Linked DNA regions of Homo sapiens. The protein of the gene in region 1 purifies or fractionates together with the protein of each later gene. This does not show direct contact. Each region holds a gene or a part of one and is shown in the gene's direction. Other genes may lie near its edges. The genes, in order: CTAG2, TBC1D9B, FLCN and SEC23IP.

Region 1 (6,470 bases):
ATCCCTGCTTAACTTTAATTCAATGGCCCTCTTTGAATATAGACATCCTGGCCCTGTCACCTCTGAAGCTTCACCATTCCAGATGATGCCTAATGTGATTTCAAATACATTTCATCCATTCCAAGCAAGTCTTCTCTGATTCGGAAACACAAAGACTGTCTGCCAGCGTGTGTGGACCAGGACCGGCCCTCTGGAGGGGAGGGGCTGTTATGGGCCTCGGTAGGTTTTGTGTTTAAGCACACATGTGTTCTTCATGAGTACCTCCAAGGTGCAGAAGAAAAAAAAAATCTCAGTGTGTAATAGTGACAAAATGCTGATGAAGCAAACTATCAACAGCCCTCTGGAGGAATAACTTTCAAGGTAGGATGAACTGTGTGTGTGGAATTTGGAAACAATTGTTTTTTGGAAGCGGCTGAAAGCCACAGAGATGACCAGGAGAGCCGGGCGACATCTGCCCCGTGGTGTCTAGCGTGGGCCCCGAGGCTCGGTGACTTCAGAGACTTCATCACGGCACCGTCCGCCTCATTACATCAAGAAAAGGTGCCAATTAGAACAAGTTTCAGAGGAAAAATATGGCCTCCAATGAATTGAACAGGCTAATTTAAACTTTGGCAAACTGGCTCACTCCAGAGCTAATTAGAAATTTTCCTCAACAGCAAGTAATGAATAACTTTCTTAATCGCTTTCTGCTTATAAATGTAATACATGTTCACTGCAAAAGAAGAGGAAATATGGGCAAGTTCGGAAGAGAAAATAAAAAACCAACCGTTATCTCACCGCCAAGGATAACGACAATGAAAATGTGGTGTATTTCTGGATAAATGAGCCAATTCTTGTCTAGTGCTTACAACAGTGGCTTGGGACATGGTGACCACCCAACAAATGTTATTGGTTATTATTATTCTCATTGCTAGTAGGCTTAGAAAAGTCTTTTCCAATGCTATCCCTCCCCCAGCCCCCCACCCCCAACAGGCCCCGGTGTGTGATGTTCCCCTCCCTGTGTCCACATTGTTCAACTCCCACTTACGAGTGAGAACATGCGGTGTTTGGTTTTCTGTTCCTGTGTTAATTTGCTGAAAATGATGGTTTCCAGCTTCATCCATGTCTCTGCAAACGACATGAACTCATTCTCTTTCATGGCTGCATATATTTCATGGTGTATATGTGCCACAGTTTTAAAATCCAGTCTAACATTGATGGGCATTTGGGTTGGTTCCAAGTCTTTGCTATTGTGAAGAGTGCTGCAATAAACATACATGTGCATGTGTCTTTATAGTAGAATGATTTACAATCCTTTGGGTATATACCCAGTAATGGGATTGCTAGGTCAACAAGTTGATGGGTGCAGCAAACCAGCATGGCACATGTATACCTATGTAACAAACCTGCACGTTGTGCACATGTACCCCAGCACTTAAGGTATAATAATGAAAAAAAGGAAAGAAAAGAAAGAAAGAAAGAAAAGGAGAGAAAGAAAGAAAGAAAGAGAGAAAAGTCTTTTCCATTCCAACAATCAAATAAAGTTCATCTAAATTTTCTTCCAATGTTTTTACTTTTATTGTGTATATATTAGGTCAATACATTCTAAACACTTCAGATACTATAGAAATATTTCTCTATATAGCATTCCCCCGTGCTTCTACTGAGATATGTATCGGCAGCCTGAGAAGTCGGCATTCCTTTGTCCACACCCATCCCCGTGCATCCGTTTCATTTCATTCGCTCCACAGTCAGCCGCACCTCAGAGTTGTCCTTCAAAGGGTGAGAGACTAAGACTTTTATCCAGTGACTCTTGGCCCCATCGGTGGGGGGCTGTGTCCAAGGGTACAACTTCCCCAGAGCTTCCAGGCCCACCCTGTGCAGGGCGCAGGAGAAAAAGCAGATGTGTTGTGAGCTGCAGGAGAGGCGCTGGCACAGGGCACAGAGGTCCCCACCCCAGCAGCCGAGAGGCAGAAGGCACGTGCAGGGGGCCCAGAGGCTCAGCAGGATCTGAGATGTGAGAAGATGTCTACGAACACAGAGGCGCAGGAGGAGGCCGGAGATGACGGTCACTGGAGGGGCTCTGAGACGTGCACAGAAAACAGGACAGAGCTTGGCAGCAGCACTCATTTGTCGCCCTGCCACACACAGCCTGTGTTTTCTCCTTGACAGCATCTCAGTAGGACCCAATAATGCCAACGCCTGGAGATCCCTCTGGACAACCGTCTTCATCCTCCACATCTGGTCCTCCCCTACACCTGGGGCCTGGACCTGCTAAGGAGCTCTTTCCAGTTTTCTAGACACCTGTGGAATCCCTTCACCCACCCTTACCCATCGGTGTGGCTGCTCTCCAGCTCACTCTCGTCCTGCTCTCCCCAACTGCCTCGGCTCCAGGGGGACGAGGCTTTCCCTGGGCTGCTGCCTTCCCTGCCCCCTTCCCAGTCCCCAGAAGGGTGCCAGCCTCAGAGGCCTCCAGAGCAGAGCCTTGCTCACCGCAGCAGCTCCAGCTGGAGGAGGTTCCCCCTGCCTCCTGCACCCTGACCCCTTCTTAGAGCAGCAGAGGCAGAAGCAGGAGCCTGCTTTGGAAAATGACATGTTTTTATTGCTATGTCTGCAGTGGCTTTTTAGCACAGTAGAATGTCCCCGCAGGCCCGCCACCCTCACCCAGCCCCAGCCCTGCAGCCTCTGTCTGGGTGTCGGGGAAGCCTTTCTTGGGGTCACTCAGCCGTCTGAGGACTGGATGTGGCACAGACATACATAGGTTAAAGCTGCTACACGGAAGACTGGAGATGCGGGAAGTGCATTCGCTTTAAGCCTAGAGGTGGTAGCCGTGTCCGGGGTCCCTTCCTGGGGGTGTGCCTGTTACCGAAATACCAAGGGTTTGGTCTACGTCCTGCTGCTGGCCGCACAGAAAGCCAATGACTGACTGAGACGAAGAGCATTACCAGGGAAGACGGCTTTAATTGGGTGCTGCAGCCGGGGAGATGGGAGTTAAGTCTCAAATCCATCCCCCTGACTAAAACTAGGGGTTTATATAGCCAGGAAGAAATGCACCAATGTGTAGGAAAACAGGAACTCGGGAGGGCCCAGAAAGCAATCCTGATGAATTTGGGGGGTCCAGCATCTCATTGTCTGGATGTGGTTATCTGGTGAGTTTCAGTTCTTTGATATTTTGAGAGGCCCGAAGGTCATTTCCTGAGGAAGGAATTCAGATAAAACAACTGTAAGGTTCAAGCTTGAAGACCAGAAGGGTCAGTTTCTATGTGTATCAAAAAGAACAGCCTATGGGACGATTGGATCGGTTTCATGCCCAACCCAGGGTACAGGATGTGGGAAGCCTGAGCCGGCCTGGTGAGCAGCCCAGACACCCGGGATGGAGTATTGCAGCCTCTCGCCCCACAGACTTGTGAACAGGGCGTGGGGACAGACACCCAGCTCCTAGGGCCATGCCACCCCCACCCCTGCCCGCCTCTCGCAGCACCTTTCCTGTGGATCTGACCCCCTTCCAGACACAGAAGTAAGCCAGCACCCAGCAGACACAGGGTCACCTCCCAGCTCCCTACCAGGCAAGAGCGACCAGGGCAGGGACTGATACTGCCGAACCCAGGAGCCAGGCCCGACCCAGCCTCAGGTCCAGCAGGTCCCGCCTGTCCACCTGGGCCAGGCCTAGAGCCCGGGAGCCCCTGGCTGGTGGGAGGCCACCCGCAACCCACCCCACACGCAGCTCCAGCTCCCCCACCAGGCGGGGCGACTAGGACAGGGACAGAACCCGTTGAACCCAGGAGTGAGATCCGGCCCCGGGTCCCGCTGGGCCCTCCCGTCCACCTTGGCTGGACCTGGCGCCTGGGAGACCTTGGCTGGCGCGAGGCCACGCCCACCAGACATGCAGTTCCAGCTACCCCACCAGCTGGGCGACCAGGACAGGGACGGAGGCTGCTGAGCCCAGTTAGAGGCCTGCCCCCCGGGGTCTGTCCTGGGCGCTCCCCCAAGGACGGACAGGGCAGACAGGGTCCGGGACGATGGCCGCACAGTCCCGGCCCCGTGTTCCCAGGCCCGTCTTGCTCCTCGATGTGAGGGAGACCCGGGGGATGGGACAGGCTGGGCCCCGCAGTGCCTGACTCCCTGCAGGGCTCCCGGGACAGGGGTCCGGCGGACAGCCGGCTGCTCAGGGGTGAGGGGTCCAAGCTGGCATTGCGGCCACCTTCCGGCCCGGGCTCTCTTGGGGAGGGGCGGGGTTGGTGAGAACCGGTCACGTGCTCCGGGGCTCACTCGGGGTCTCCCAGGGCCGGAAGTAGGGCCCCTGTGCGCAGGCGCCCTGAGGATCCCGGGCTGCCCATCTCACGCCAGGGGGCGGAACTTCCTGCAGCCTCTCTGCCTCCGCATCCTCGTGGGCCCTGACCTTCTCTCTGAGAGCCGGGCAGAGGCTCCGGAGCCATGCAGGCCGAAGGCCGGGGCACAGGGGGTTCGACGGGCGATGCTGATGGCCCAGGAGGCCCTGGCATTCCTGATGGCCCAGGGGGCAATGCTGGCGGCCCAGGAGAGGCGGGTGCCACGGGCGGCAGAGGTCCCCGGGGCGCAGGGGCAGCAAGGGCCTCGGGGCCGAGAGGAGGCGCCCCGCGGGGTCCGCATGGCGGTGCCGCTTCTGCGCAGGATGGAAGGTGCCCCTGCGGGGCCAGGAGGCCGGACAGCCGCCTGCTTGAGTTGTATCCTGTTCTGTTCTGTTCTAGGAGGTTCTGGTGGCGAGGTGGGGGCCGTGAGACGGAGACAACAGGGTCAAGAGGTGGGGGGCAGGGCCAGGAGGTGGGTGAGGGCAGGGCCAGGTGCGGAAGGTGGGGTTTGGGAGATGGGGGTAAGGCGCCGGGTGGGGTGGGGGTGGGGGCTGGGAGTTGGAGGTCGAGGGGTGGCTCAGAGGAAGGGAGTAGGTAGGGGATGGGAGGTGGAGCGTGTGCACAGTTGGGTGCTGGGCGATGGGGTGAGGGGCAGGGGGACAGGAGACAGGGGTTCTTGGGTGTGTGAAGGGATCAGGAGTTGGGGGGAAGCGTGCAAGGTGGGAGCCGGTGGCTGGGGTGTGGGCTGGATGGGGGTGGTGTCAAGCGATGGGGAGAGGTCCCGGCTGATGCGGCAGGGGGCATGGTGGGGAGGGCCTTGGAAGGGCACGCAGGAGTCAGCTTGAGGTGCAACAGAGGAAAGTGGGGAATCAAGACAGCTGGGTGGGGTTGCTGCAGGACCTGGGCCAGTGCGTGGGGAGACAGCCTGAGGGGATGAGATGGGCACCGGCCAAATCCTAGGAGATGGCACCTTAACTGGGTCCCCACCAGGCACATCACGATGCCTTTCTCGTCGCCCATGGAAGCGGAGCTGGTCCGCAGGATCCTGTCCCGGGATGCCGCACCGCTCCCCCGACCAGGGGCGGTTCTGAAGGACTTCACCGTGTCCGGCAACCTACTGTTTATGTCAGTTCGGGACCAGGACAGGGAAGGCGCTGGGCGGATGAGGGTGGTGGGTTGGGGGCTGGGATCCGCCTCCCCGGAGGGGCAGAAAGCTAGAGATCTCAGAACACCCAAACACAAGGTCTCAGAACAGAGACCTGGTACACCAGGCCCGCCGCCACCCGAGGGAGCCCAGGGAGATGGGTGCAGAGGTGTCGCCTTTAATGTGATGTTCTCTGCCCCTCACATTTAGCCGACTGACTGCTGCAGACCACCGCCAACTGCAGCTCTCCATCAGCTCCTGTCTCCAGCAGCTTTCCCTGTTGATGTGGATCACGCAGTGCTTTCTGCCCGTGTTTTTGGCTCAGGCTCCCTCAGGGCAGAGGCGCTAAGCCCAGCCTGGCGCCCCTTCCTAGGTCATGCCTCCTCCCCTAGGGAATGGTCCCAGCACGAGTGGCCAGTTCATTGTGGGGGCCTGATTGTTTGTCGCTGGAGGAGGACGGCTTACATGTTTGTTTCTGTAGAAAATAAAGCTGAGCTACGATTCCGTGTCTGAGTCTCTTTTCGGCGAGCGAAGGCACCTTCGGACTTGCATGCCCTTGTCCTCGGGTTGTAGGGGAGGCTCTGGGATTCACAGATTGAAGTAGCACAAGGTAACGGGAGGCAATTTGGGAAATGGGGGAAAATGAAAAGCCACTGGGTCCCGCCATTCAGCATTAACTACTGTGGACATTTTAGAATATTTTCCTCAATATACTTGCATTTATATGTTAAATATATGACAGTAGCATATATAATGTTTTTCCAGGTCAGCATTAAATTTTTTCCCAAATTGTTTTCATTGAACATATGAGCTTTTGTGCTTTCTAAAAATGCTTCAAAAACATGTACTTGAATAGATGCATAAAACCAGCATTATTTCACTGTTAAACATGTGATATGGGCCGGGCATGGTGGCCCACACCTGTATTCCCATTGTTCTGGGAGGCTCAGGTGGGAGGATGGCTTGAGACCTGCAGTTGGAGGCCACCCTGGGCAATGTAGTGAGATTCTATCTCTATA
Region 2 (7,026 bases), on another chromosome or scaffold:
AGAACTTCCTAAGCCTGGACAGACATTACCAGCTTTCTCAGCTCTTCTCAGTGCACTTTGGGGTTCAAGGTGAGACCTGGTTACCTCTATCTCCAGGAAAACAGGTGGAGAGAGCAGAAGCAAGCCTTTACTCTGGTGAGCAATTGGGCGATGATAATAATAGTAGTTGTGACATTATTCACTGCCTCCTATATGCCAGGCCCAACAAACGCATCAGCAGAACAAACCAAATGACTCATAGGCCAAGGAAGAAATGGAAATTAGAAAATATTTAGAATTGAGGCCAGGTGTGGTGGCTCACACCTGTAATCCCAGCACTCTGGGAGGCCAAGACGGGCGGATCACTTGAGGTCAGGAGATCAAGGCCAGCCATCCTTTGCCAACATGGCAAAACCCTGTCTCTACTAAAAATATTTAAAAAGTAGCTGGGCGTGGTGGCATGGGCCTGTAGTCCCAGCTACTCGGAATGGAAGACTGAGGCAGGAGAATCACTTGGACTTAGGAGGCAGAGGTTGCAGTGAGCTGAGATCACACCACTGCACTCCAGCCTGGGCAACAGAGCGAGACTCCATCTCAAAAAAAAAAAAAAGAAAAGAAAATGATTGAAATACTACTGCATGTCAGGATGTGTGGGATGCAGTGAGAGCAATACACAGAAGGAAATTTAAAGCCTTCAGTCTTACAAAAGAAGGAAGGATGGGCCAGGCGCAGTGGCTTATGCCTGTAATCCCAGCACTTTTGGAGGCCGAGGCGGGCGGATCACGAGGTCAGGAGATCGAGACCATCCTGGCTAACACAGTGAAACCCCATCTCTACTAAAAATACAAAAAAATTAGCCGGGCATGGTGGCGGGGGCCTGTAGTCCCAGCTACTCGGGAGGCTGAGGCAGGAGAATGGCATGAACCTGGGAGGCGGAGGTTGCAGTGAGCCGAGATCATGCCACTGCCCTCCAGCCTGGGCAACAGAGCGAGACTCCGTCTCAAAATACGCTGTGAGGAGCATCTTTAAAAAAGCAAAACTCTAAAGAGAGAGGATGACAAAACAGCCTTAAACCAGTACCTTTAAGAATTTAGACAAAATGGGGCTGGGCGTGGTGTCTCACACCCGTAATCCTAGCACTTTGGGAGGCTAAGGCAGGTGGATCACTTGAGGCCAGGAGTTTAAGACCAGCCTGGCCAACATGGCAAAACCTTGTCTCTACTAAAAATATAAAAAATTAGCTGGGCATGGTGTCGCGCACCTGTAATCCCACCTATTTGGGAGGCTGAGGCACAAGAATTGCTTGAACCCGGGAGGCAGAGGTTGCAGTGAGCCAAGATTGCGCCACAGCATTCCAGCCTGGGCAATAGAGTGAGACCCTGTCTAAAAAAAAAAGAATTTAGACAAAATGGGCACTTTATTAGAATAACATTTATTAATTTCCAGTTGCTTCTGCAACAAATTACCATCAACTTAGTGGCTTAAAAGAACACCAGTTTGGCTAGGCGCGGTGGCTCACACCTGTAATCCCAGCACTTTGGAGAGAGATGTTTAGATCGCAGCTGCGGTAGCACTGGTATAAGAGAAGAAAAACCCTTTTCCTTCTCCCCATTTAGGTTCTTGGCTGGGGCTCTGTTACAAAAGGCAGATTAACAAGACAAAAACAGAAGTTTACTAATGTGTGTATCTCATATATTCATGGGAGAAACTTGGATAGGTGACTCAAAAGTTTAGTTGGAATTGGGTTTACACAGCCTCTTAACACAGGGACAGGCCACTTAAAGAACAATAACAGGACAGACGAAAACAGCTTATGCTTCCAAGGGCAGGAAACTGTGAGAAGATAAATACGTGGGATGAAACCGATGGAGTAAGGTTTGTTTGCAGATGCGTGCGGTGTCATCTCTGGGCTGATAGGAATCTAGAATTGTCTCCAATAAAGGAGAACGTATATCCAGCTTTTAGGCAGAAAGGGGGAGGGAGGGCAGAAAGAGCTTTTCCTGTGTTTGCTGCTACTTAATTGCCTTCAGCTCAAAATACTTCTTATGTCAAAAGGGCATATTTTGGGATGGCATATTGTAGTTTCCTTCCCTGGCTACTCAGAAATAGAAGAAATCAGAACAGATCCCACCTTTCAGTCCTCACCTAGGCTCATGGCTGTCCTCACTGCCCATGGACAGAGGGATCGGGGGTGGCCCAGCCACCAGCACTGACCTTGACTGACTAGTTTATCTTGTAATTGTCTTTCTAGAAAATCAATGTGTACATTTTGAGCTGAGGGCACTGCTGAGGACCTGTTTTACCCCAGGAGGCTTGGGGCTGGCTCTGTGGCCCAGGGGGATGTCTCTGGGCACCCTGAGCCCTGTAACAATGCCAGCAGCATGAGGGAGTATGGACGGGCCCTGAAACTGCAGGTCCTGCCGCTGGTTTGTGTGCAGGGCCAAGAGGCAGGAGCCCCCTGGCATACAGGGGGCCAAGTGCAGGACGTCCTCCAGGATGTGATAAGAGAAGCGCTTTACAGAACAGAGCTGCAGGGTGATCCCATTTGGGCAAATAAAGGGGGAAAGAGGAAAACATACATTTGCTTATGAATCCATTGGTGTTTGCATGTCTGGAAGGAACCAGGAAAGTCACTACAGAGAGCGAGAAAAGATTCCCTTTTCACTGAATACACATTTCTACTGTATGCATTTTTTACCATGTTTATGGATAATGTTTCAACAATTTTACATGAAAATAACTGAAATATTCATTTTAAAAGTGTCAGGCCAGACACAGTGGTTCACACCTGTAATCCCAGCACTTTGGGAGGCTGAGGCGGGCGGATCACTTGAGCCCAGGAGTTTGAGACCAGCCTGGGCAACATGGCAAAACCCCATTTCTACAAAAAGTACAAAATTAGCCAGGTGTGGTGGAGTACACCTATAGTCCCAACTACTTGGGAGGCTGAGGCAGGAGGATGGCTTCAGCTGTTGGGTTGAGGCTACAGTGAGCCGTGGTTGAGCCACTGCACTCCAGCTTGGGTGACAGAGTGAGACCCTGTCTTAATTTTTTTAAAAAGCCTCTGCTCACAACTGGTGATGACAGTAGTTACGGGAGTTGCAGGAACTTTGTCTAGAGAGTCACACAGGCAGCGTCTCTCATCCATGTGCCTTGACTGCAAGCCAGCAAGAGCCACTGACTGTTCCCAGCTGTGCCTGTAGCCCTTAGACCAAGGTCCATGAGTCCTGGGTTCCCTGGGCCTCTCTGCTCCACCCTTTGACCTGTCCGGGACTGTGCAGGGCAAGCCCTTGTCCTCTTGCCTTCCTCCAGGGAATCATCGCAGAAGAGAACAAGAACCTGCAGCCCCAGGGAGACGAGGACCCCGGGAAGTTCAAGGAGGCTGAGCTGAAGATGCGGAAGCAGTTTGGGATGCCTGAGGGCGAGAAGCTGGTGAATTACTACTCCTGCAGCTACTGGAAGGGCCGCGTGCCCCGGCAGGGCTGGCTGTACCTGACGGTCAACCACCTGTGCTTCTACTCCTTCCTGCTGGGGAAGGAAGGTGAGCCCGCCCCTCAGTGTGCCCCAGCCCCCACACCCTCAGCCCCTCCCTGCCTTCGGCCCCCAGATACTCCATCCCCACATGGCCACCAGAGGGGTCTCCCTGAAACCCAAATGCCACCTTAGCGGCCCAAGATGGGACTGTCCGGCCTTGGCCAGGCGTACACCTGCTCCCAGCCGACTTTTACCATGCCCCCCACTCGCTAGTAGGGTTCTCTACATGGTGACTCCGCGTGCCTGCCCTGCCCTCTTCTGCTGAACTGGCGTATTCAGGCACACGTCTGTCCCAAATTCCTGGTGATTCCATGTCATGCAATGCCTTGGGTGCGTGCCACAGCCCTCATCTGCTGCAGGTTCCTCCCTACAGACATCCCGGCCACAGGATGCGAGCCTGATTTCCCAGCAGCTCCAGAAAGAGCCCCAGGGTCTTAGCCATCCCCAAGCCCACCAAGCCCTCCTCCCTCCTTGCCTCCCTCAGCCCACAGCCTCCCTGTGCCCCCTCCTGCCCTTGCCGCTTACCTGTCACGACCAGGTGGCCAGTCACCTCCCGTCAGCAGGGGCTGTGTCCTGTTCTGTGTTGGCCGCGCTGTGCTGTGACTGTTCACACCTCCGTGCGCTCCCACTTGGGGGAGCTGCTGGGTGGGTCTCGGTGGTTCACCTCCGCACGTTCGTTCCTTTCCCCTTCAGCCACTGGTGGGGGAGACACTCACCGTGTGTGGTTGGTCTGGAAGGCAGTGGACACCTCAGTGGCCTGGTCCCTCCACATGGAGGGCGTGACACAGCCCAGACAGGCCTGGGCACACAGGAAGTGCTGCCCCCAGAGAGCAGTTCCCTGGGATGGGTCTGGGGTACAGATGGGCATCAGGAGCCTCGCCCTGCCAGGCCCTAACTTGCGGTGTGTCTATCTCTGTGGGCACAGTGAGCCTCGTGGTGCAGTGGGTGGACATAACGCGTCTGGAGAAGAACGCCACCCTGCTCTTCCCCGAGAGCATCCGTGTGGACACCCGCGACCAGGAGCTCTTCTTCTCCATGTTCCTCAACATCGGCGAGACCTTCAAGCTCATGGAGCAGTTGGCCAACCTGGCCATGCGGCAGCTGCTGGACAGCGAGGGCTTCCTGGAGGACAAGGCCCTGCCTAGGCCCATCCGGCCACACAGGAACATCTCAGCCCTGAAGCGGTGCGTTGCCCTCCAGGGCTGGGGTGGGCTCATGTGAGCCAGGTTCGCTGACCTTGGCTGGGACCTGCCTGGTCCAAGTGTGTAGACCTGGAGAAGGTGTCCACATTCACCCCTCATGGGCTCCCCACTTGGGAAGGAAGCCAGGTAAACAGATCATTGCAGTCCCGTGTGGAGAGGCAGCAGGAGATAGCAGTGATGTCCTGAGGATACCACTAATGGGGAGGAAGCTCTTCACACTTTATTCCTCTTGGCCCTATGATGGGAAGGGGCTCTTACCATCCCTAGGTATCAGACAAGGAAGCTGAGGCACAGAGAGGTTAAGTAACTTGCCTGAAGTCCCTCGGTTAGTGAGCAGTGGAGCCAGGATGTAGCCACCTCAGCCAGGGTGTTCTGACACCCCCAGAAAGGCTTTGGTAAATCTGGGCTCAAGTGCACGGCCTCCGTCCCACCGTGATTGACAGCTCTCCTGTATACCCTGAGACTCCTTGGCCAGAGGCCTCTCACAGCCATGGGACCCCCAGGGGTCCTGAGTTTGACGTGGAAGCAGACCTCTGGGTCTGAAGCCAGCCAAGGAGATGGGCCATGTGTGGGTCTGAGTTCCCTGCTGCCCTGTCCAGGGGACCGATAGGCAGGAACACATCATAGCAGCCAGCCCTCCCGGGCTACTTAACGTTTGGGTTCCTAGGTTGTAGCTTATGGGAAACTCCAGAGGCTGGACAAGATCTCTGAGGTTCCCTGGGTCCCACAGCCAGCCTGACCACAGCCAGATTCACACCCTTGTGTTGAGCGACCTCATTCCAGCCAGGCCATTTCCTGCATTGCACCCACAGACTGTGGTCCAGGCCCAAACTCTGGGGTCCACCTCCAGGACCAGAAAATTGTGCAAGCATGTTGTCCTTGGGATGCAAGTGACAGGTTGGCTTGTTGGACCTTTTGGAAAGAACACGAGCAGAGATGGAACATGACTGCTCCTGGCACTGCCGGTGAGAATGCAGTCAGGCCCTGGTCAGGCCACTGCGGCCCAGGGCAGGCAGGAGGCTCCCTTTGGGGCTGGGAGAGTTTATGTGGACAGAGCCACCAAAGGGGTGAGGGCCTGGGCCAGGCCACTGTCACAGCCATCAGATACACAGGTGTGCATTTCTGTTAGCAGCCGCATGCTTTAGTTTAAGCTCCACACCTCCCTGTGGGGAGCTCCTCACCTAGGTTTCAAGGTGAAACCTGGGGTTAGGCCTGCCCAGGGTGGAAGAGCTGCCCGGGGCCCTCCATCTGAGTGGGATCCAGGGCAGGTGCTCTGGGCTCTGCTTGCCCATCAGTACCGAGGGATGGGTTGCACATTGCCCAGGCCAGCATCTAGGTGTGTCCTTTTCAAAGCAGTCTCAGGACACATTGCTTGCTGGCCACTTCTCCGCTGGTTATGTGACTGTCTCACCTTCTGCCTGCTCACTCAGCATGCATCTTTTATTGAACTCTGAGGTCCCTGAGCATGACTTGCTCAAGGGACCACCCCAGGGATCCTGAATCTGATGTGGAAACAGGCCTGGGGAGGCCCCAAGGCTTCCTTGAGAGTGTGCTGGTCCTGACCTTGTCCCCTTTCCTCCTGTCCTCCTACCTTGTTTCCCCAGAGACCTGGACGCCCGAGCCAAGAATGAGTGCTACCGAGCCACGTTCCGGCTGCCCAGGGATGAGCGGCTAGACGGCCACACAAGCTGCACCCTGTGGACGCCGTTCAACAAGCTGCACATCCCTGGCCAGATGTTCATCTCCAACAACTACATCTGCTTCGCCAGCAAGGAGGAGGACGCTTGCCACCTCATCATACCCCTGAGGGAGGTCAGCATCCCCTAGTTGAGAGGCCAAGGCCTTTCCAGCCCCGAGGTGTCAGTGGGCTCAGGGACCAGCCTGTCCTGCTCTGCCCTGTCTCACTGGGGGGTACCTGGGAGGATGCCCTAGCCCAGGCAGTCACATGTCACTCAGTGATGGGACAGGTGGAGGGTGTAGGACAAGTGAGCCCCTCCACAGGCACCTGCCCTGTTGGGGAGGCAGGTAACATGGTGGGGGCACACTGCTTGCCCTCTCAGGTCACTTGCCTAGTGGAGACAGGGTCTCCCACGCGTGAGTTTCCATCAGGCCTGCCTTCTGGGCCCTGCAGGGCAAAGTGCTGCTCCGTGGCTGCGCTTAGAGGACCGTGTTCCTGCACCGGTCCCATATGTCACTCTCAGAGGCCACCTCACCAGTCCTCTCTGGACATACCACCTTGGCGTGGCTCGGCTCCAGCAGGCCATCAGAGGTCGGCTCTCCCCTGTGGGGCGGCGTCGGCTCTCCCCTGTGA
Region 3 (7,026 bases), on another chromosome or scaffold:
CGCATGCCTGTAGTCCCACTACTTGGAAGGCTTCGTTGGGAGGATCACTTGAGCCCAGAAGATTGAGGCTGCAGTAAGCCGTGATCGTGCCACTGCATTCCAGCCTGGGCAACAGAGCGAGACACTGTCTCAAATAAAAAAGATGGGAATAGTAGACACTGGGGGCTCCAGAAGGAGGGAGGGAGGGAGGAAGGGGAGGAAGGGCTGAAATGCTTTCTATTGGATACTATCTGGGCATATTACTTCCTGTGGTTCACTGTCTGGGTGACAGGATTCATAGAAGCCCAAACTTTAGCACCACGCAGCATACCCTTGTAACAAAGCCGCACACGTACGCCCTCAAGCTAAAACAAAAGTGGACCGGGAGGCCGAGGTCGGGGGATCATGAGGTCAGGAGTTTGAGACCAGCCTGGCAGATAACGGTGAAACCCCGTCTCTACTAAAAATACCAAAAAAAGTTAGCCGGACATGGTGGCAGGTGCCTGTAGTCCCAGCTACTTGGGAGGCTGGGGCAGAAGAATCGCTTGAACCCAGGAGGCGGAGGTTGCAGTGAGCCGAGATTGCGCCACTGCACTCCAGCCTGTGCGACAGAGTGAGACTCCGTCTCAAAAAAAAAAAAAAAAAAAAAAGTGGAAAAAAAAGAAACAACGTGTAGATCCTCGAGAACTGTGGCCGACTGGGTGTGTTCCGTAGACACGCTGTTGGCATTTTTCTTACTGATTTGAGTTTTCTCACCAGCAGAGAACAGCTGACGGTCTTTCCATAAGTGCTTCTAAGAGAGATGTGTGGTACCCCGGGCTAAGTAGACAGCAACTGAGCCCTCCCTCCCACCCCAGGGCTCCCAGAGCAACAGGGAGCAGGGAGCATAGGACCTGGCCGCAGCCAGGAATCTACACTGACCGGCTCAGCCCATGAAGTATCTTGGGCTGAAGTCACAGGATGAGACTGTTTGTATCTGTAACTGTCCTTGTCATCTGTCTTGCAGATTTAGAAGAGGAATCAGAAAGCTGGGACAACTCTGAGGCTGAAGAGGAGGAGAAAGCCCCTGTGTTGCCAGAGAGTACAGAAGGGCGGGAGCTGACCCAGGGCCCGGCAGAGTCCTCCTCTCTCTCAGGCTGTGGGAGCTGGCAGCCCCGGAAGCTGCCAGTCTTCAAGTCCCTCCGGCACATGAGGCAGGTAGGCGGCAGGGGCACAGCGCATCAGGAGCTCAGGAGGAGAGCCAGTCATGGGCTGTCCCTGCCCACACGCCTTGCCTCTGGACCCTCCACCTTCAAAACCCTGCAGGAAGTGACTGACAGCCTCCTCGGTGGGTGGCTGAGGGCACAGGGCGTTGGGGGTATTAGCCATAGGATCAGTGCTCCCCTTTCAGTGATGACCTAAGTATCTTCAAAGAAAAGCCCAGATAGTTGGCATCCCATGGTCCTCTAATCCTCTAAGAAGCTCCTAAAGGCATTGAACAGCACTGTAATTGGTTTGGATGCAGCCTGGACCCTGCCCATTGTAAGTGATGGTCTGGCTGGGCGTGGTGGCTCTCACCTGTAATCCCAGCACTTTGGGAGGCCAAGGGGGAGCGGATCACGAGGTCAGGAGTTCGAGACCAGCCTGGCCAACATGGTGAAACCCCATCTCTATTAATACAAAAATTAGCTGGGCATGGTGGCATGTGCCTGTAGTCCCAGCTACTTGGAGGCTGAGGCAGGAGAATCGCTTGAACCTGGGAGGTGGAGGTTAACAGTGAGCCAAGATGGCACCACTGCACTCCAGACTGGTGACAGAGCGAGACTCCATCTCAAAAAAAAAAAAAAAAAGAAAGTGATGGTCATTCTTACAAAAAATTAGGAACAACTTGCATATCAAACCATACTAGTAAACAGTAGCCAAACCATGGAATATGATTAATTAGAAGAAATAAAGCAGGCACTGTGTGTTCAGGGTGATGTATGTACATGTGTGCCTGCCAGACACGACAAAATCTAACAGTGTTGTCTCCAGTTACATCGAGTCAGATGCCGGGAGAGAGGGGTGTGGGTTGCTGGATTACAAGGGCAGGCTGCCTTCTTATAAAATTCTTCTGCATGAATTTTTCCAATGAGCACTGATTCATTAGAAGAGAGTTATTTGTTTTTGAAAATGGAGTGAGACTGATTTCATGGCAGATGTCCTTGGGGCTTCTGGATGTAAACACCCATTCCATCAAAATCCTGCATTTGGCTGAAACCTTCCTTGTCCGTTGCTTATGTTGATGAAGGTTGGAAGGGGTCTGGAATTCCTCTGGAGGTGGGACTACTTTGAGGCTGTTGGGGTTTGGTGAGACATAGTATTGTGGCCTCTCTCTTATGTTGTGTTTCAAAGCTGGGTTTGGCTTCTTAGAAGCCGTGAGACAGCAGGCTGGACTCTCCTAAGGTGTCAATGTCATGGAAGTTAATAACAGGTGGGGTGTGGGGAGAGGCTGTTCTAGGTTAAAGAATAAGGACGTGACAACTAAAAGCCATGATGGGTCCTGTAGTATCTCCTGGATCCAAAGAACAGCAGCCGTCAAGCAGGCAGCAGCCCTGGGCTTGTGCACACGGCTGGATGTCAGATGCGTCCGTCCAGGCACTCCTGGCTGCAGTCATGGTCTCAGCTGTGGAGATGCCCTTATTCTCCTGGGTGCTGCCATGTCGAGGGCCCTACAGCTTGCTTTCAAATGGTTCAGCAGAAAGTGTCTGTAGAGAGAAGGTGAATATTGCACAAAGTTAACATCTTTTTGCTTCAAATTTTTAAAAACAAAACTGGGAGAAAGATCTTGGAGCAAGAGCTTTGGAATCTAGCATTTATGTGCAAACCTGGAACTTCTCTCTCTGCCCCTTTAACCCTGGGCCGGGCACCCGCCTCCCTGAGAAGATAAGTGTCTTTCTCCTGAGCCCTGTCTTTGCTCTACAAAGTTTTATGAACACACAAATAACTTCATGGGAAGGGAGAGAAAAACCATTTCTACTAGTCACGCTGAAAGCACTGCACTCTCTTGTTTAGGTCCTGGGTGCCCCTTCTTTCCGCATGCTGGCCTGGCACGTTCTCATGGGGAACCAGGTGATCTGGAAAAGCAGAGACGTGGACCTCGTCCAGTCAGCTTTTGAAGTACTTCGGGTGAGAACATCTTTTCCTTAGGTGTGCGGCGCAGGGCAGTATTGGCCTGGTGCCTGGCGTCAGGTGGGGATGCCAAGGTGCACCGACTGCCCAGCACAGAACCGCTGTGCACCACACGGTCTCCACTGGGGGCGCAGTGGGCACGGAGACCCGGGTCTGGTCTGATGATGTTTAAATCATCAGAAGGATGCGTGTGCCTGCTGACTGCCCAGGCCTGAGAGGGAACAAAAATGCATATGACACAGTCTTGGTAAAAGCTTCTTTGTGGGATGCGGTAGGAGACAAACATCTGTGCAGGCAAACATTAATATGAGTTAACACCACAGAGCGAGGGGCGGTACAAGCTGGTGTGTGACTGGCGGTCCAGACAAGAGTTAGGGACCTGGTGGTGGAGGACCCTCCCCCCTCACCCCCACTGTGGGCTGAGAGTCTGGGGACTCCTCTGGCAGGAGGGAGGGCTTGGACCGGGCTGCAGGAGGCGTGTGGGGTTTGGGTAGTAGAGCATGGATGGCCGGGGCTGAGGGCTTCCTCGTGTCCTTGGTCTGAGTCCTGCTGTCCTCCTCAGACCATGCTTCCCGTGGGCTGCGTCCGCATCATCCCATACAGCAGCCAGTACGAGGAGGCCTATCGGTGCAACTTCCTGGGGCTCAGCCCGCACGTGCAGATCCCCCCCCACGTGCTCTCCTCAGGTGCGTGCCCCCGCGGGCTGTGGGGCCATGCCCTGCGCTGAGGTTCCCCACGCCTCAGGCCCAAAGTGGAACCAGATCTCTGTCATGGGTTGTGGAGAGGAGGCCTCATTGCAGGGCCAGCTTCCCCCATGGCTCTGGGCCTCCGTGTTCTATCTTCACACAGGTAGCGGTGGGTGAGTGGACCTGATGGGAAGGTTGGCTGGCAGGGACTGTCGTCAGTGGGCTGCAGGTCACCATCGTGGGGTGGGAGGATGTGTCCCTGGCCGGAGGATCCTGGTCGTCCTGGTGATTGGGTGCCTATGAGATGGAGGCCTGCTGAATGCTGGGTGTGAGCTGCCTGCTTCTGTGGGCCCTGCCATCCTCTCCTCACTCTTCTACTGTTCCCCTGTCCTGACTTCTGCTCTCCTCCAGCCTTTTTCTTCACCTCATGTGCCCGAGGTCTTCCCGGCCTTCACTGGTGTGGTCAGGGCTCAGCAAACCCCTGGTCTTTTGGTTTGGGGATGTCCAGGGATCAGCCCCCCAGGCTCATCAGTGACTTCCCCCAGCACAGCGGTGACCAGCAGCTGCTGACTCATGGTCCGAGTGGAGCTACCCTGAGCCCCCAATCAGCACCCAGGCTGGGTCCTGACTCCCTGCGAGGCAGTGCCTTTTTTCCGGGTAGCATTGGAAACACAGGCTCTGGTTTCAAACAGACTTCAAATTCTTACCACTACGAGCAGGTTATTTAACGTCTCCAGGCCTGTTTCCCCATCTGTAGAATAGGGTCATGGTGAGACCACCCTCATAGGGCTGCTTAGCCAGAGGTAAATTGATGTATATAAAGTACTTTGTGATTATTGTAATATAATAAATTATTAGTTTAACTGAGGCAAAAGTTAACCCTTAACTATTCACGAATAACCTGAAAGGTTTTAAATACCAAAGCATTGATTTGGGCCAGTCTTTTCACCAGCAGCCTTCCCCACTGACCTGGGATGAGCGGAGTGGGGCCCACGGTGGGCTAGCGCAGGGGAGGTGAGGAGCATGGGGGAGATGAGGAGCCACGGGCCTTGTGTTGTTACAGAGTTTGCTGTCATCGTGGAGGTCCACGCAGCCGCACGTTCCACCCTCCACCCTGTGGGGTGTGAGGATGACCAGTCTCTCAGCAAGTACGAGTTTGTGGTGACCAGTGGGAGCCCTGTAGCTGCAGACCGAGGTGGGTGCCCCCAGGCAGAGTGTCCTTTTTGTGAGAAGATGCCCCCGCCCCGCGCTAACGCCTGCCCTTGCTCTGCCCCTGCCCTTCTCCCCAGTGGGCCCCACCATCCTGAATAAGATTGAAGCGGCTCTGACCAACCAGAACCTGTCTGTGGATGTGGTGGACCAGTGCCTCGTCTGCCTCAAGGAGGAGTGGATGAAGTAAGCAACAGTGTGGGTGAGGCCCCTTTGCTTGCGACCCTGGAGAAAACCTGGAGCTGTTTCCAAAAGAGGAGCTGGGCCGTGGCCACTGAGGGAGGAGCCGAGAGAAGAGGTTGGGGGCGGGGTTCCAACTCCACGTCCGCCACTGCAAAGCTCAGGTGGCCTCGGGAGGCGGTCATCATGTCTGCCTCCGGCTCCTGCATGGGGAGGTGGGGGTGGCGCCTGCCTTGGAGAGCGACTGAGGCTTGGGCAAGGGCTCCAAGCTCACAGGAGGGTTCATAATGGAAGCTCTGTCATCTGCTGTGCAATTAACTTCAAAACCTAAAAGCCCAGTAACCCATGCCCCACCCCGCTTTTTATTTTATTTTATTTTTATTTTTTATTTTTTTTGAGTCAGAGTTTGGCTCTTGTTGCCCAGGCTGGAGTGCAATGGCATGATCTTGGCTCACCACAACCTCCGCCTCCCGGGTTCAAGCGATTCTTCTGCCTCAGCCTCTGGAGTAGCTGGGATTACAGGCACCCACCACCATGCCTGGCTAATATTTGTATTTTTAGTAGAGACAGGGTTTTAGCATGTTGGCCAGGCTGGTCTTGAACTCCTGACTTCGTGATCCGCCCACCTTGGCCTCCCAAAGTGCTGGGATTACAGGCGTGAGCCACTGCACCTGGCCCCCCGGGTTTTTTTTTTTGTAAGCAAATTTACTTTATTTCCTCCTGCCTCGATTCTTGGTAATTTTTTGGGTCAAATTTATTAATCAAACATTGTCCTGATTTAAAATCATGCAGTGAAGCTTAGGAGCAACCAGTGTCTTCCACGAGTTTAAGGAAGGTTTTTCTTTCTTCTTGGCGTCTTGACAACAGCTTGAGGGAGGGTGTGGGAAGCGCACAGGCCCCATACCCATACCCGACAGAGGGCCGAGCCCAGCCCCGACAGCTTCCCTTCCTTGCTGGGACACAGCTCCTTTCAGCAGTTCAGGGGCCAAGCCTGCTGCCCCAAGGGTGTGGATTCCAGCTCTGCCTGCACAGCTCCTGCTGGTGCCAAAGCCGTGTCACCCCTGGTTGGCCCCGTGACCAGGGCTCGAGGGATTGTGCTGTGGTGTCTGAGTGTTTTGTTTTGGTTTTCTTCAGCAAAGTGAAGGTGCTTTTTAAGTTCACCAAGGTGGACAGTCGACCCAAAGAGGACACACAGAAGCTGCTGAGCATCCTGGGTGCGTCCGAGGAGGACAATGTCAAGCTGCTGAAGTTCTGGATGACTGGCCTGAGCAAGACCTACAAGTCACACCTCATGTCCACGGTCCGCAGCCCCACAGCCTCGGAGTCTCGGAACTGACCCGTCACACACACCTGCCTAAAGACAGGGATGGCTGTCCACAGGATCCTCCAGCCCCGTGAGAGGGACTGTCCCTTGAGTTTCTCAACTGCTGGAAGGAGCTGTGTCCCAGCAAGGAAGGGAAACCATCAGGGCTGGGCTCGGCCCTGTCAGGTTTGGGGCCTGTGTGCTTCCCAGACTCTCCCTCCAGCCGTTGGAATCGCTGAAGATGGCAATGAAAGGCGGAGGGATGATGGGCTCTCTCTGTGTTCAAACTCCTTGGAGAGACGACTAGGAGGACAGCTTGCCTCCCAGGCCCCTTGTGGACTTAGACTCAAAACCCGCAGGAGAAACAGGTCCGACTCAGTATGCAGTCGCAATAACATGTCTGCTCCCGAGGTTAACATTCAAGCGTTTCTACTTTGAAATTCAGCAAGAGTTTCTGGGCCTTATGTTTGAGGGTACCTTTTGCTGCAGTTGTGAATATTCAGTACATTGCCAGCTCTT
Region 4 (7,026 bases), on another chromosome or scaffold:
CTTTTTAGTTCTTTTTTTCCCCATTTGGCTTTGTAATTTAGAAGAGTAAGGTGTAGAGAACAATTTAACTTTTTTCTTACATAATCGTTTCTGTCTGTGCCATATATTGAATAATGTACCCTTTTGTCATTGGTTTGATATTTTTATCATATGCCAAATATTTTGCTGTTGTTTGACATTTTAATTAATATTTGTTTCCTAGGCTTTCTCATCTCTTCTGGTGATTTATTTGTCTATGATACTTCATTGATTTCAAGCCATTTATTTTCCACATTTTAACATATTTAAATTTGTAATGCATCTTAAAATCTGCTGTTGGGGCTGGTGCAGTGGCTCATACCTGTAATCCCAGCGCTGTGGGAGGATTACTTGAGCCCAGGAGTTTGAGACCAGCCTGGGCAACATAGTGAAACCTCGTCTCTTAAAAAAAAAAAAAAAAAAAATTTAAGTCAGCTGTTGCCTTAACGGAAGTTGAGTTCTTTCTGAGAAGCTGTGCATTCTCTTCTGCTGGTCACTGGGGGAGGGGCTTTACCAACTTGCCTCTGCTTAAGCTAATTTCTCTGCTTGGGATTTTTTAGGATGATGCTGGTAGTGTGATTTCAGCCCCCAAAATTTGCAGGGATGGGGTTGTCAGTTCAGATATTGGAGTTTTTGTTCCCTCTTTCCATTGTCAAGGAAGAGGTGCGCAGGCCTCTTTGCCATCCCTTCTGCATGTAGTTGCTTGCTTTTATCCCTCATTGAGACTATAGATGTTTAGTCCCCCACTTTTTGTGAGGGGTTCTCCTTTGAGACTCCCTTTCTGGGCATCTTTTTATGGTACATAACAGTGAAGTGTCACAATCAACAGTGTCTTAGATTTGGTGAAATATGGTGTTTTAATAATTGTAATTTTTTACATAATATCTGGCAGTAGAAGTTCTCAGTATACCATAGTCTTTGCAGTTATCCCGAATGAAGTTCGAAATAATTTAAGTTCCCCTGACGCTCTCTCCCCTAACAAAACAAAGCAAGACAAACAAAACCAAAAGAATAGTAATTCTAGGATTTTGCCATCACCTTATATGGAAAACTCAGAACCTTCTATTTCACATATGATTCGTTCACTATAATTGTTTTATTTACTTCTTCTTACACTTGGCTGTAAAATTTAGGCAAGAATTTAAGTTTCTAATACTATACTAATGTCATAAGATAATCCATTTAAAATGTTAACAATTATTCTATACATAGTTCATTCAAGCTTAGATCAGTTTTGCTGAATGGTTGTTTTATGTTCATGTCCTTTTAGACCTTTTTAGGATTGTTCTTTGAAAAGCCTCAAATTGGCCAGGTGTGGTGGCTTACACCTGTAATCTTAGCACTTTGGAGGCTGAGGCAGGCAGATCGCTTGAGCTCAGGAGTTCGAGACCAGCTTAGCAACATAGACAAGACATTACTTGTCTCTACTAAAAGTAAAAAAAAAAAAATCACTGGGGCATGATGGTGTGCACCTGTAGTCCCAGCAACTTGGGAGGCTGAGGTGGGAGGATTGCTGGAGTTCGGGAGATTGAGGCTGCAGTGAGCTGTGATCGTACCACTGCACTCCAGCCTGGATTATAGAGTGAGACCCTGTCTCAAAAATAAATAATTAAATAAAAAATAAAAAAGCCTCAAATTAACATGGCAGATAACTAACTTTATTTTTTATTAATATTTTAGCTGGTCACGGTGGCTCATGCCTGTAATCCCAGCACTTTGGGAGGCCAAGGCGGATCACAAGGTCAGGAGTTCGAGACCAGCCTGGCCAAATAGTGAAATCTTGTCTCTACTAAAAATACAAAAATTAGCCGGGCGTGGTAGCACACACCTGTAGTCCCAGCTACTTGGGAGGCTGAGGCAGGAGAATCTTTTGAACCTGGGAGACTGAGGGTGCAGTGAGCTGAGATCGTGCCATTGCACTCCTGCCTGGGCGACAGGGCGAGACTCTGTCTCAAAGAAAAAAAATAAAATAAAATATTTTAATTTTTTGAGAAGGGGTCTCACTCTGTCACCCAGCTTGTGTGAGTGCAGTGGCGCAATCTTGGCTCACTGCAACCTCTGACTCCCAGGCTCAAGCGATCCTCCTAACTTAGCATCTCGAGAGGCTGGGACCACAGGTGTGCACCACCACGTCTGGCTAATTTTTTTATTTTTTGGTAGAGACAGGGTTCCCCCAAGTTGCCCAGGCTGGTCTCGAACTTCTGAGCTGAGATGATCCACTTGCCTCGGCCTCCCACAGTGCTGGGATTACAGGCGTGAGCCACAACACTTGGCCATAACTAACTTTAAATTGTGTCTTTTACTCTCTGTACTGGCTTTGCTATGAAGAAATCATGCTGGTTAATCTTACTGAGTGTTTCCTGGGCATTCTTGTCCCTTTGGAAGGCCTGAGGACTTGCTTACAGGCTGTGCTCTTTGGAGGCGGTTTGCAGTGTTTGTCAGTAAAGTTGAGCACTGGATTGTCCATTTTTTTTTTTTTTTTTTGAGATGGAGTCTCACCCTGTCCCCAAGGCTGGAGTGCAGTGGCGTCATCTTGGCTCACTGCAAGCTCCGCCTCCCGTGTTCACACCATTCTCCTGCCTCAGCCTCCAGAGTAGCTGGGATTACAGGCACCCGCCACCATGCCCAGCTAATTTTTTGTATTTTCAGTAGAGATGGGGTTTCACCATGTTAGTCAGGATGGTCTCGATTTCCTGACCTTGTGATCTGCCCACCTCGGCCTCCCAAAGTGCTGAGATTACAGGCGTGAGACACCGTGCCTGGCCGATTGTCTGTTCTTTTACTTCAGAAAAGACAACGATGCATGGTATTTGACTGTAAATTTGTAAAGTTCACTGAGGTTTTTTTTTTTTTTCCTTTTTAAGACTTTCTTGTCTGCACAGAAAGTCCCAGTACAACTTCCATTGCTGAGAAAATCCTCAGAGGACTTTCCCACTTCGCTCCTGTGATGGATGACAGAAGAGTGATTCATTAACAATTGCTCAGCCACAATTCTCGGATATAGGGATTCAAAAGACAGGACACAGAACTAACACAGTGAAAAAAATCAGTACCACATTTGGACAGTATAGGTGAGAAAACATAATTATAAAAATGATGCCATGAAAAATTCCACAGATCAGTTTAGTTGTATAGTTGTCAAAGTTATATGTGATATCAATGAAGAAATATTTGTAGCATGTAAACGGTTATTTCTGTTTCTTAAAAAGTATTGTTAGTGGGCTATTAAACTTGGATTTTTCTTTTTATTAATGCAGTATGTTCTTTTTATTCAAGTATGAACTTGTTGAGAAACTATAGTAATATGATTTTTAAGAGATTTATGTTCTACTTAAAATGTGAATTGTACTTCTGAGCTGCCTTAATGCAAGGTCATTTATATTTGTTAAGAGGAAATAATCAAGATCACTCATATCCCAACTGAATCTGAGGTTTTATAAATCCCTCAAACGATTGCTGAGAGCCTGATTGTGGAAAGAAGTGAGATGCACCTTATTTTCAAGAAGTCCTGGGAAGCGCTCTCCTAGCACGTCCATTTCCAGGAGGAGAAGCAAGCAGATGAGAGGTTTTCCATTTTGTCATCCAAGGTAGCTGTGCACTTGCCTTGTTGCTGAAGTTCCAATAATGTGAAAACCAAAGTAGAGGTTTTTTTCTTCTTCTTTTTGTTTTCTATTAATTTCACTTATACCAAAGTGTTTGAAAGTATGAAATGTGTTGCTTCTGAGTTATATAAGGCTACTTCATGACAAGACTGCTTTGTAATATTTCACTTTGTTTTACTACAAATTCAGATCACTTTGTTTTACTATAAATTCAGATTATCCAAATATTTTCCTAATACTATGTGGGAATGCTGATTTTCTTTTGTTACGTAGTGGAAACATTTTGCATTGTTTACATAGTTCTCATGGAACATGGAAATTTTTGAAAGTGATATATGATACACATTTTTTGTGTATGTATTCTAATTAGTGTGAATAAAGCAGTAACATTAATGCATTTTTTAAGCAGCAAACTTATGTATTTCTCTTGTCTTCCTTAAAAGTGTCCCCATGAACTCAGTGTTTATTCCCTTTTCATTTTGAGTACCTGCTTATATGGTCAGTATGTAACGTTAGCATTGGCTCCTAATGGTAGAATTAGAACAGCAAGATTGTAGAGCTGTAATTGACTCCAGACAACATAGATTTCAGCCACCTCATTCTACAGCTGAGGCCAGGACAATAAATGCCTTTCCCAGACTGGGTAGTGGCAGATCTGGGATGGAATATGGTTTTCTTGATTCCCTTTCAGCCTTCATTTCTCTCTCTCAGGACTACTACTTTTTAATTACTTTTCACTTAATTTCCCAATACTGATGAAATAAAGAAAAATGAGGGTTATTTATATACATTTCAATAAAATCCAATTTGATTTTTCAACTTACATCTGATTTTTGTTTGTGTCATTCAGCCTGTCTTCTGAGTAATGGGCAGAGAAGGACCAGGGTTCGTAGAAGAAGCATGTGGCAGCTGAGTGGCAGCAGTCTTGCCCTTTCATTTTAATACTTGAGTACACAGAAAATAGAATTTTTGAGTGACTCTGCCTGTGGATATATATACTCATACATACATATATATATATACACACACACATATGTATGTATGTATGTATTACTATTCAGTCTCTTAAAAACCAAAAAACAGTAGATCCCCTGAGGGTAGAGTCTTTATGTATGAACATATTGTTCACTGTTGTAACCACCTTGCAGGATTTCAGTCTATAAACTAGGTGAGAATCCAGCTGCTGAGTGAAGCTTGATCTCTGCCTCTTCCTCAGGAGCAGCTCATCCCCTGACAACCTCCCCTCCCAGCCCCTAATCTGGTTTAATGCCCTCCTTTTCCCCAGATAAAGAAAGTCATGTCTGTAGTTATTCCAAAAGTGTTTCATGTGTAGAGTTTGGCACAAAAAGTAAAAAGCGCCAGCATCTGAAGTCAAAGGTGAAAGAGTCATCACAGTACTGATGAAGACACCCAGGCCTCGTCAGCTATGTTAACGTGCTGTATGACAAGAGGAACCTGCTTTCTAAGTCTGCTGGACACGCGTGCTTCTTGAATCCAACCAGACAAGCATGTTTTCTCAAAACCACAGTATAAGACAAGGAAACTGCACAGATTCGAGTGATTTTTGAGGTAAGTATGTTATTGGAAAGGTGTGATCTATATAGAACCCTGTACATGAAAAGGAGGAGATGCCGCTATCTTGGCAGGGATGATCATGTATTTGAAATAGTAACTCACAGCATTTGGTCTCATGATAAGAGTACTGAAGATTATCCCAGAAAACCTAGGATGATTGGTATTTATAGTACCATTGTTTCAGGTTTTTATGACTTGAGGCATCTAACTATCTTAATGCTGTACTTTAGTGTTTACCAAGCAGCTTTCTGGTGGAAACTTGAACTGCAGACACTGAGTGTTTTGGTTTTCCTCCAAGTTATAGTTCTCATTGTAACTTAATAAGTTGGCATTCCAGCTTAGTTTGAGTCAGTTTCCCAGGGCTGGGTCCTCAGAGGAGAGTGGATAGAATTCAGTTCCTCTATGAGCTGGGGTGCTGACATTGTGTTCCTGCTGTTGACTGTCCCTGCGGTGCACGGGACAGACTGTCAGCTAACCTGTCTTCATGACATTTCTATAATACTCCTCAGGGGGTTAACCCCATCTCTACTAAAAATAAAAAAAATTAGCTGGGCATGGTGGCATGTGCCTGTAGTCCCAGCTACAGGAGGCTGAGGCAGGAGAATTGCTTGAACCCAGGAGGTGGAGGTTGCAGTGAGTTGGGATCTCGCCACTGCACTCTAGCCTGAGTGACAGAGCGAGACTCTGTCTCAAAAAAAAATAAATGAATAAAAAATAAAACAGCAACTCTTGCAGATTTCCCGAATGTATTGGTCCCAGAGAACACTGAAAATAATGTCATGTTGTTAACACCAGTGGGAGTTTGGGAAATAATTCCAGCTCTTTAATACTTCTTTCAGCTTCAGATTAAGTGAAATGAGTTTCACATATTTCAATATATGAAATTTTATGATGACACATAAAACAGGCCAGGGGTTATTGAGGACACATCTGTGAGATAGTGGGCAATGCTACATATTCGTTAGTGGATGTGCTGCAGTTCAGGTTCATGGACAGGTGGGACTGGTGTGGTTGGGATAACCCACCATGTTTGTCTTTCATTTCTTGTATAAAGAGTGGTTTTTAAAAGACCTTACTATGGAATTTTCACAAATACTCAAAAGTATGGAGAATGGTACAGTGAATCCCCATGTGCCCTTTTCCCAGCTTCAGGGGTGGTGTCAGTGATAATGATTTGGCTCTGTGTCCCCACCCAAATCTCATCTTGAATTGTAATCCCCACGTGTCAGGGGAGGGACCTGGTGGGAGGTGATTGGATCATGGGGGCTGTTTCCCCATGCTGTTCTTGTGATAGTGAGGGAGTTCTCACAAGATCTGATGGTTTTAAAAGTGGCAGTTTTCCCTGCACTCTCTCCTGCCACCTTGTGAAGAAGGTGCCTGCTTCCCCTTTGCCTTTCGTCACAATTGTAAGTTCCCCGAGGTTCGTCATGATTGTAAGTTTCCTGAGGTCTCCCCAACCATGCAGAACTGTGAGTCACTTGAACCCCTTTTGTTTATAAATTGCCCAGTCTCAGGTAGTACCTTGATAGCAGTGTGAAAATGGACTAATACAGTCAGGGACCTAAAAGACAGGTAAAGAGATGTGGCCAGGTGAAGACGGAAAAAGGACAGTGCATTCCAGACCTGTGGAAAGACGCGAGGTTGGAAAGAACATCACAACTGGGGCGACTGAAGAAATTATGTTGTTAAGCACGAAATGCAGAGAGAGAGCTATGTGAATGTGTTGAGTGTGATTTTCATTAAACAATTTTTAAAGAAAGCATTTCTAGTGGTGCTTTTATTTTTGCAGCCGCTTAATAGCATTCACTCTTGTTGAAAGGAGCACAGTTTG

The links.
Region 2: the proteins of CTAG2 (region 1) and TBC1D9B purify together in Homo sapiens (co-immunoprecipitation; 2 studies listed by BioGRID and IntAct, with this or other methods). This does not show direct contact.
Region 3: the proteins of CTAG2 (region 1) and FLCN purify together in Homo sapiens (co-immunoprecipitation; 2 studies listed by BioGRID and IntAct, with this or other methods). This does not show direct contact.
Region 4: the proteins of CTAG2 (region 1) and SEC23IP purify together in Homo sapiens (co-immunoprecipitation; 2 studies listed by BioGRID and IntAct, with this or other methods). This does not show direct contact.

The regions. Positions count from the first base shown.
Region 1 is NC_000023.11:154,651,459-154,657,928, reverse strand, and holds CTAG2 (cancer/testis antigen 2), read left to right. Parts: upstream 1-4,349; 5' UTR 4,350-4,413; coding exon 4,414-4,682; intron 4,683-5,297; coding exon 5,298-5,432; coding exon of another isoform or gene 5,433-5,661; coding exon 5,662-5,800; 3' UTR 5,801-5,952; downstream 5,953-6,470.
Region 2 is NC_000005.10:179,890,880-179,897,905, reverse strand, and holds part of TBC1D9B (TBC1 domain family member 9B), read left to right. Parts: intron 1-3,291; coding exon 3,292-3,520; intron 3,521-4,438; coding exon 4,439-4,697; intron 4,698-6,319; coding exon 6,320-6,527; intron 6,528-7,026. UniProt on the Homo sapiens protein: May act as a GTPase-activating protein for Rab family protein(s).
Region 3 is NC_000017.11:17,213,169-17,220,194, reverse strand, and holds part of FLCN (folliculin), read left to right. Parts: exon of another isoform or gene 1-628; intron 629-985; coding exon 986-1,176; intron 1,177-3,012; coding exon 3,013-3,126; intron 3,127-3,691; coding exon 3,692-3,815; intron 3,816-4,878; coding exon 4,879-5,010; intron 5,011-5,104; coding exon 5,105-5,210; intron 5,211-6,338; coding exon 6,339-6,540; 3' UTR 6,541-7,026. UniProt on the Homo sapiens protein: Multi-functional protein, involved in both the cellular response to amino acid availability and in the regulation of glycolysis.
Region 4 is NC_000010.11:119,937,704-119,944,729, forward strand, and holds the end of SEC23IP (SEC23-interacting protein), read left to right. Parts: intron 1-2,882; 3' UTR 2,883-6,954; downstream 6,955-7,026. UniProt on the Homo sapiens protein: Plays a role in the organization of endoplasmic reticulum exit sites. Specifically binds to phosphatidylinositol 3-phosphate (PI(3)P), phosphatidylinositol 4-phosphate (PI(4)P) and phosphatidylinositol 5-phosphate (PI(5)P).